2 separate regions of the Homo sapiens genome follow, and region 2 is linked to region 1. The links come from fine-mapping of genetic effects on plasma protein levels. A gene starts in region 1. The other region holds a variant in brackets. All regions are shown on one strand. Distances are from middle to middle.

Evidence for each region. A credible set is the group of variants that fine-mapping cannot tell apart. PIP is the posterior inclusion probability: the model's chance that the variant is causal. The UK Biobank Pharma Proteomics Project read protein levels with antibody pairs (Olink). The fine-mapping took linkage between variants from a reference panel, not from the people measured, so its PIPs are less certain.
Region 2: its variant is the best candidate, but not a certain one, in a credible set for the plasma level of the CDHR2 protein (UK Biobank, PIP 0.72).

The regions. Positions count from the first base shown.
Region 1 is chr5:176,545,118-176,549,499 of GRCh38, forward strand. CDHR2 (cadherin related family member 2) reads left to right here and starts at 4,225. Exons shown (of 32, transcript NM_017675.6): 1 at 4,225-4,297. It also overlaps the pseudogene RN7SL684P.
Region 2 is chr5:176,574,610-176,578,991 of GRCh38, forward strand. It overlaps CDHR2 (cadherin related family member 2), which reads left to right. Exons shown (of 32, transcript NM_017675.6): 8 at 475-600; 9 at 671-817; 10 at 897-972; 11 at 1,115-1,230; 12 at 1,343-1,576; 13 at 2,790-2,945; 14 at 3,028-3,189; 15 at 3,425-3,486; 16 at 3,756-3,999. Among named protein-coding and RNA genes, the nearest start is that of CDHR2, 27 kb to the left of the region's middle. RefSeq lists a silencer at 3,819-4,113. The variant C/T (reference allele first, on the strand shown) is at 1,844.

The sequences.
Region 1 (4,382 bases):
TTTTTTGTGGGGGGTGGGGACAGAGTCTCACTCTGTCACCCAGGCAGGAGTGTAGTGGTGCAATCTCGGCTCACTGCAATCTCCCCCCACCCCACCTCCAGGTTCAAGCGATTCTTGTGCCTCAGCCTCCTGAGCAGCTGGCACTACAGGTGCACGCCACCACGCTGGGCTAAGTTTTGTATTTTTAGTAGAGATGGGGTTTCACCATGTTCTACGTTTCACCATGTTGGCCAGGCTGGTCTTGGACTCCTGGCCTGAAGTGATCTGCCTGCCTCAGTGTCCCAAAAGTGTTGGGATTACAGGCGTGAGCCACCGCACTCGGCCGAGAAGTTTTTCTGATTAAAAAAAATTTTAAGGCACACACTTCAGACAGTGGCTGTGAAGGAACCCTGATGTGTATCTAAACTGTCGCCTCGTGCACATCACCCCATTACTTACTCTGTGCTAAGTGCTGTCATGCATTACATCATTACTCCTTAGAACAGGCCTATGAGGTGGAGTCTGCATTAGGCCCATTTTGGACAAGGACACCAATAGTGTGGGAGGTGGTGTACCTTGCCCAAGCCCCCAGCAGGTAAGTGGTGGTGGGGATTAGGACCCAGGTCACTTGAGTCCATATCCTGGGCTCTTAGTCCCACTCTGCCTGGCTGCCTGCTGCTCCGTGAAGCCAACCCTGGACCTAGACCTGGACCTGGATCGTCATAGCCCAGATCCCTGTGTGCTTCCCAGGCTGCCTTGTGGCAGGTGGATGGTGCCCCTCGAGATGGGCAGGGCACCATCTGGCCACACGTGCCTCATCGTGATGGGTCCAAAGGTCTGGGCAGGCCAGGACACACCTCTGTCAACCAGAGCAGTGACTCAGAGCTGTCGGCCTCAGCCGTAAGGGCAGGGAGAGGGGGCAGGGGCTTGGGTTGGGGTCTGCCCTATTTGGGGCACAGCAGAGCGACCAGGCTGACTCCCATGGTCTGAGGCAGAGCGGGGAGCCTGGAGCCTTGGGTGGGGTCACCTGCCTCTCTTCTTACTGGTTAAGCCACCAGCGATGACTAGTGCCTACTTCCTTCAGAGAGGAATCTGACGGCTGTGGCAGGAAAGTCAGGGGCAAGAATTGTTGCACAGATATGCTAATATCTCAGTTCTGCCACTTTCTGTAATCTCGGGTGGTGATCTAATCTGTCTAAGGTCTATTTTCCCATCTGTAATGGGGAAAAAAATCATCCCTGGAGTTATTGGCAGGATTAAATGAGGTGATATTAGTAATGCAATAGTCACCACCATGCCCCCACGAAAACTAACATTCATTGAGACCTTATTGTGTTGGGCATTGTGCTCAGGACTTCAAATGGGTGACTTCATTACATCCTCACCATCACCTGCCCAGGTAGGCATCATGTATTACCTGCAACTTACAGATAAGGAAACCGTCTTAGAGAGGTTATGCAACTTGCCCTGCCAAAATTGAACCCATTGTGAATATACAGTAGATAAAAAAAATAATAAAAATAAAATGAAATTAAAAATTGTGGCTGGGCAGGGCGGCTCACACCTGTAATCCTAGTACTTTGGGAGGCCGACACGGGTGGGTCACCTGAGGTCAGGAGTTTGAAACCAGCCTGGCCAACATGGTGCTCAAAAAAAAAAAAAAAAAAAAAAAAAAATTGAACCCAGCAGTCTGACCCCAGAGGAGCCTGGTCTCTGGTCTCTTAACCCCTGCATTGTAATAGTCGCATCGAGCGCTACCCAGTGTCTGCAGCATCCTTTCCTCAGAAACACTTCTCAAAAAGAGGAAAAGCCTCTTGGGTATCAAAACTCAGAACTGCATCATAGCTCCCAGAGCCTGGCTATACGCAAAGTGGTCTTTTTGGTCTTTTTTTTTTTTTTTGAGATGGAGTCTTGCTCTGTCACCCAGGCTAGAGTGCAGTGGGACAATCTTGGCTCACTGCAACCTCTGCCTCCCGGGTTCAAGTGAATCTCCTGCCTCAGCCTCCTGAGTAGCTGAGATTACAGGCACCTGCCACCGTGCACAGCTATTTTTTGTATTTTTAGCAGAGACAGGGTTTTACCATTTTGGCCAGGCTGGTCTCGAATTCTTGACCTGGTGATCCACCCGCCTCAGCCTCCCAAAGTGCTGGGATTACAGGCGCGAGCCACCAGCCTATGCAAATGTTTTAAAATGGATGGATGCTGGACTCAATGGATCTCAATTCCCTTTTTTCTTTGCCTGGGGGGAAGCTCAGAACCTGATTCATGACCCATCTCTACAATTACCCAGAACTTGAAGGCAAATATATATATATATATAATTTGTTTATTTTTTGAGAGAGAAGCTCTTGTTGTCTAGGCTGGAGTGCAGTAGCTATTCATAGGCACAGTCTCACTACTGATCAGCACCTGAAGTTTGACCTGCTCTGTTTCTGACCTGGGCTGGTTCAGCCTTTCTGAGGCAACCTAGTGGTCCTCTGCTCCTTGGGGTTCACCATATTAGTGCTGAATTTAGTGTGGACACCCCATCAGCATAGTGCCCTACAGCACAGAAATCCTGGCCTCAAGCCATCCTACTGCTGCAGCCTCCCAAGTAGCTGGGACTACAGGTGCACAGCAGTGCCCCCAGCTCAAGACAAGTATTTTATGGCCTCAATTCAGGCGTAGATTACCCTTATTTTTCTCACTTGACTTCCCTTCATCTGGGTTTCTTCTTTTTATGCTGGTGGCGTATAAATTTTGTTACTATGTTTTACATTTGGAGAGTTGGGAAGCAAACTATTAAAATGCCTGACTATAGCAACTGCCTGATATACAGTCAACACAACCCTTAACAACGGGGACACCTTCTGGGAAATGTGTCATCAGGCAATTTCGTCATTGTGTGAACATCACACAGTGACTTACACAAACCTAGGCGGTACCACCTACTACACACCCAGTCTCTATACCACCGCCTGTGCTCCTGGGCTGCTAACCTATGCAGCCTGGGACTGTACCGCACGCTGCAGGCAACTGTAACACAGGGGTAAGTATTTGTGCATGTAAACACAGAAAGGGTGCCATGAAAGATGATATTATACTCTTATGGGACCGCTATTATATGTGTGGTTCGTTGTTGACCAAAACACAGATATATGGTGCATGACTATATATCTATTGTGAATTAGACATGTCCTCTGCCCACAAGAAGAGGGCCACCCAATGGTGACGACTCAGTGGTGTGCCTTAAGAAAGTTGTGCCCAGGGTCCCCTTTCTGTGTCAACTGTGATGGCTGGGCCAAAGTGAGGATAAGAAGGACTTGTGGCTGAGCCCCTTCGGGAGGCCACCACATCGGGCAGCGCTTAAAGCCAGCCTGGGGGCCGAGCTCCGTGGCTCATCCCTGTAATCCCAGCATTTTGGAAGGCCGAGGCAGGCGGATCGCCTGAGGTTAGGAGTTCGAGACCAGCCTGGCCAACATGGTGAAACCCTGTTTCTACTAAAAATACAAAAAAAATTAGCCGGGTGTGGAGGCCCACGCCTGTAATCCCAGTTACTCGAGAGGCTGAGGTAGGAGAATTGCTTGAACCCAGGAAGCAGAGATTGCAGTGAGCCAAGATTGTGCCACTTCACTCCAGCCTGGGTGACAGAGCAAGACTCTGACTCAAAAATAAATAAATAATTAAAAAAAAAAGGCAACTTGGGAGTGGATGAAGCCCCTGGGGACGGGCAGATGCCTTTTGAGGGTCTCAATGCGGGGTGAGATCAGTGTCAACAGGCTCGAAAGTGGGTTGTCCAGGCTCAGCTAGCCCCCAGTCCTCCACGAGAACCTCACAGGGGCTGGTCTGGCCACACAGTGTTTGATTGTTACACTGTTTTACCACTTCCCTCTCCTGACTCAATCCCCCACTTGTCCACAGATCCCCTGTCACTGAAGACTCGTAGCAGGGAGGGGACGGGGGCTCTGGCATCACCTTCTGACTGTCACCGTCCCCGCCTCCAGCCTGCCCCAGTGTTGGGCCTTGTTCCCAGGTCCTCTGGGCTCAGGGTCGGCCAGGCCCCTTCTCCTGTGGTGTGGGCCTCCAGCCCCAGGAGCGCCAGGAGCTCTGGCGCCTTGGTCCCTTCCTCCTGTCCGGCGCCCCCAGCTGTACTCTGCCTCATTAGGAGTCGACCCCTCCTGGGAGGTGTGGTCTCTGGCAGGGTTAATGATTGCTCAGTGGAGGTGGAGATGGTGCCAAAGTCTGCTGGCCACATAGCTGCAGGCCGCAGAGGGTGCCCACCTGTGTGCCAGCGCCTGTCCGGCGCCTGCCTGCCGCCTCCGTGGCGAAGGGGACACAGGTAGGGACTATCCAGCTCATCGGGGGTCTCTGGGCCAGAGAAATGTGGGGGTTGGGGGGATCCCTAGAGCCAAGGCAAGCTTGGG
Region 2 (4,382 bases), 29 kb after region 1:
CAACGGGGTAGTATTTGCATGTAACCTAGACACATCCTCCTGTGTGCTTTAAATCACCTCTAGGTTACCTCCAATACCAATGCAATGCAAATACTATGTAACTATAGCATGTTATGCTATATTGTTTAGGGAATCATGGCAAGGGAAAAAGTTTGTACACCTTCAGTACAGACGCAACCATTGTGAGTGAGCCTAGCTACAGTTTTGATCTGTGCTGGTCAAATCTGTGGATGTGGAAGCCACAGAGATGGAGGGCCGACTGCATCTTATTGGATCCTCCTTTCAACCCACTGAGGGTTGTCACCAGCCCCATTTCCTGGAGCTGGAAACTGAGGCTCAGAGAGGTCATATGACCTGGTGCCAGTGGCGTGACTGGTCAGTGGCAGAGCTGGGACCTTCCCTGCGTTGCTCAGAGTGGGGTCCTCGGTGCAGGGCTGTCCCTAGGGAGCCTGACCCAAGTCTGCTCTGCCCCAGGTCATCCCTAGCACTGGGGACAGCGAGCATCTCTTCCGGATCCTGGCCAATGGCTCCATAGTCCTCAATGGCAGCCTCAGCTACAACAACAAGAGCGCTTTCTACCAGCTGGAGCTGAAGGCCTGTGTGAGTGGGGGTGCCGGCAGGCGGGCCTAGGACCCACGGCGCTGGCTCACGGGTGGCCATCTCCCCGCAGGACTTGGGCGGCATGTACCACAACACCTTCACCATCCAGTGCTCCCTGCCTGTCTTCCTGTCCATCTCCGTGGTGGACCAGCCTGACCTTGACCCCCAGTTTGTCAGGGAGTTTTACTCGGCCTCTGTGGCTGAGGATGCAGCCAAGGTGCACGGGGGACCTGTGGGGTGTGGGTGGAGGCGGGAGGCGGGGAAGTTTGAGGAGCACTGACCAGGCCCCATTCCAGGGAACCTCGGTGCTGACGGTGGAGGCTGTGGATGGCGACAAAGGCATCAATGACCCTGTGATCTACAGCATCTCCTGTGAGAACGGGGTGTCCCCAGGCCAGGGCTGGGCCGGGGCCAGGGTGGGGTCTCCGTCAGAGTCCCTGGAGGCAATGGGCCTGGGGCTCCGTCAGAGCCACTGGAGCAGCTGTTCCAGCTGTTCCGCCTTTCTCCTTGCCAGACTCCACGCGGCCCGGCTGGTTTGACATCGGGGCAGATGGGGTGATCAGGGTCAACGGCTCCCTGGACCGTGAGCAGCTGCTGGAGGCGGATGAGGAGGTGCAGCTGCAGGTCACGGTGAGCAAAGGCCCCACCACCCCTGTCAGAACCCTGCTCTCTAACCTCTGGCCTTTGATCTCTCTCTCTGAGCACTGGCTCTCTGCCCTCTGCCCTCTGCTCTGTGCCTCAGGCCACCGAGACACACCTCAACATCTACGGGCAGGAGGCCAAGGTGAGCATCTGGGTGACAGTGAGAGTGATGGACGTCAATGACCACAAACCTGAGTTTTACAACTGCAGCCTCCCAGCCTGCACCTTCACCCCCGAAGAGGCCCAAGTGAACTTCACTGGCTACGTGGACGAGCATGCCTCCCCCCGCATCCCCATCGATGACCTCACCATGGTGGTCTACGACCCGGACAAGGCAGGCGTGGTGGCGTGGGTGTGGGCGGGGGTGGCTGGGGGAGGCCAGTGGGAGCCTGGATCGAGTGACGGTGTCATGTGGTGCTGGGTGGCGGTGCTGGTGGTGCAGGGTGTGATGGCGGAGAATGGGGGTGCTGGGTGCTCTCTGGAAGCCTGTGTTGGTAAGCAGTATCATCCTCTGGGCGATCCGTGTGGGGCTGAATAGAAGGCCATGCTGAGTGGAGGCTGACGTAGAACGTCAGATGATGCTGAGTAGAACATCATTGTC[C/T]GTGGTGATGGGTGGCTGGCGAGGTCTCCTGGCATTGGGCGGCCATGATTTGGGTAGTCCTGGGAACTGGGGGAGGCTGAGCAGTGTTGGGACAAGTGGTCTGAGGGTGTGAGGTGGGAGGGTGCTCTTTTTTTTTTTTTTTGAGATGGAATTTCGCTCTGTCACCCAGGCTGGAGTGCAATGGCCCAATCTTGGCCCACTGCAACCTCTGCCTCCCAGGTGGAAGGGATTCTCCTGCCTCAGCCTCCCAAGTAGCTGTGATTACAGGTGTGCACCACCTCGCCCAGCTAATTTTTGTGTTTTTAGTAGAGATGGAGTTTCACCATGTTGGCCAGGTTGGTCTTGAACTCCTGACCTCAAGTGATCCACCTACCTTGGCCTCCCAAAGTGCTGGGATTGCAGGCGTGAGCCACCGCGCCCAGCCATGGGAGGCACTCTTAAGTGGAGGCTGCAGTGAGAGGTGGGTAACACGGTGGCGCTGGAGGATGAGTAACTCTGGAGGGTGTATGGTGTTAGGTGATACTGAGGGGTTGGAAATGTTGCGTGGAGGACAGTGTCGGGTGGGGTTAGGTTGGCCAGAAGGGTGGCACTGGCCAGTGGGGTGACGTAGGGTGTGAGTGGTGTTTGGTGTTGCTGTGGGGGCTGGGGGTGGGGGATGTGAAGGGTGGGTGGGAGGGACAGCTGACAGGAGTGAGGGGTGTGTGTCCAGGCTCCAGCCCAGGTCTGGGACCCACAGTGCCTAGGGAGCTGTCTTCTACAGAGCCTGCATTTGCAGGGACTGGTGACCAGCCCAGCCTCCTGCACCCTCTCTCGCAGTCTTTTGAGAGCCCCCTTCCATGGGACCTCATCGGGCGGGGCATCCAGAGATAGAAGCCTGGGGACTGGGGGAAGATGCAGGTGGGCAGAGCAGGGGGACAGGTCCCTGCTAGACAGCCCACCTTTACAGGGCAGCAATGGCACCTTCCTGTTGTCGCTGGGGGGCCCCGATGCAGAAGCCTTCAGCGTCTCCCCGGAGCGGGCAGTGGGCTCAGCCTCCGTTCAGGTGCTGGTGAGAGTATCCGCGCTGGTGGACTACGAGAGGCAGACGGCGATGGCGGTGCAGGTGAGGGCTGCTCCGGGGTGCCAGGGGCAGAAGCCGAGGGGCACTTGGGCCCCACAGCTGCTGCCTCCTCCCCTGCCCCCAGGTTGTGGCCACAGACTCCGTCAGCCAGAACTTCTCCGTCGCCATGGTGACCATCCACCTTAGAGACATTAATGACCACAGGCCCACGTTTCCCCAGAGCTTGTACGTCCTCACGGTGCCAGAGCACAGCGCCACCGGCTCTGTGGTCACCGACAGCATCCACGTGAGTGATGTGGACACAGTGGGGCTGTGGGGTCCCAGCAAGCGGGCGTGCATGTGTGAGTGTGAGAGTGTGTGTGTGTGTATGTGTGAGATGGGGGTGGCCATGAGTGAATCTGAGTGTGCTGGGGATTCTCCCTTTGTGTGAGGAAGCACGACAGCTCTGTCCCCACGAGCTGCATGGGTGGCGGTGCGTGCATCGCCTCCACACAGCACCCTGCCATGTCTCTGCCTCACAGGCCACGGACCCAGACACGGGCGCGTGGGGCCAAATTACCTACAGCCTGCTCCCAGGAAATGGGTAAGGGCTCAGGGTGGGCCGTAGGCAGGTGGGTGAGCAGGGCCCAGGCCCACCTCTCTGCCTCTCTGCAGAGATAGAATAGCTGGGGAAGACCGAAGGCACTCAGTTACATTTCAATTTCAGATAAACAAGGAATGACTTTTTGAAATAATGAATATGTTGCATATACTGCATGGGATATGCTGAAATATTTGTTGTTGTATATCTGAAATTCACACTGAAATGGGCATCCTGTGTCTCTATTTGCTGAACCTGGCCCCTCTGAGCAGGGCAGACCTCTTCCAAGTGGATCCCGTCTCAGGGACGGTGACGGTGAGGAACGGTGAGCTGCTGGACCGGGAGAGCCAGGCCGTGTACTACCTGACGCTGCAGGCCACAGACGGCGGGAACCTGTCCTCCTCCACCACACTGCAGATCCACCTGCTGGACATCAACGACAATGCACCCGTGGTTAGCGGCTCCTACAACATCTTCGTCCAGGAGGAGGAGGGCAATGTCTCCGTGACCATCCAGGTGTGAGCCTGCCTGGACCTGGTGGGTAAGGCTGGGGGAGGGGACCAAGCCTGCTCTGTGGGCATGCTGGCCCTGGGTAAAGTCGGGGCTCCGCTGTGTGGCTCTGAGACAGTCACTCAGAGTCTCTGTTTCCTCCCAGGAAATGAAGAAAATTATAGCCTTACTCTCAGGGTCATTGGGGAATAATTTAATGACTTGTGTGAGGAGCTCAGCACTGGGCCTGCCAGAGAAATCCCTCAAAAACATACACTTCTTTTTTATTTACCCACCTGCCCCACTCCAAAAAGGACTTGAGGTGGCTTAGATAAATAGTAAGATAAAAATATGAAAGAAATAAGAAAAAAGAGAAAATAAAGGTGGCATTTGTTAAAGGGCACAAGGTA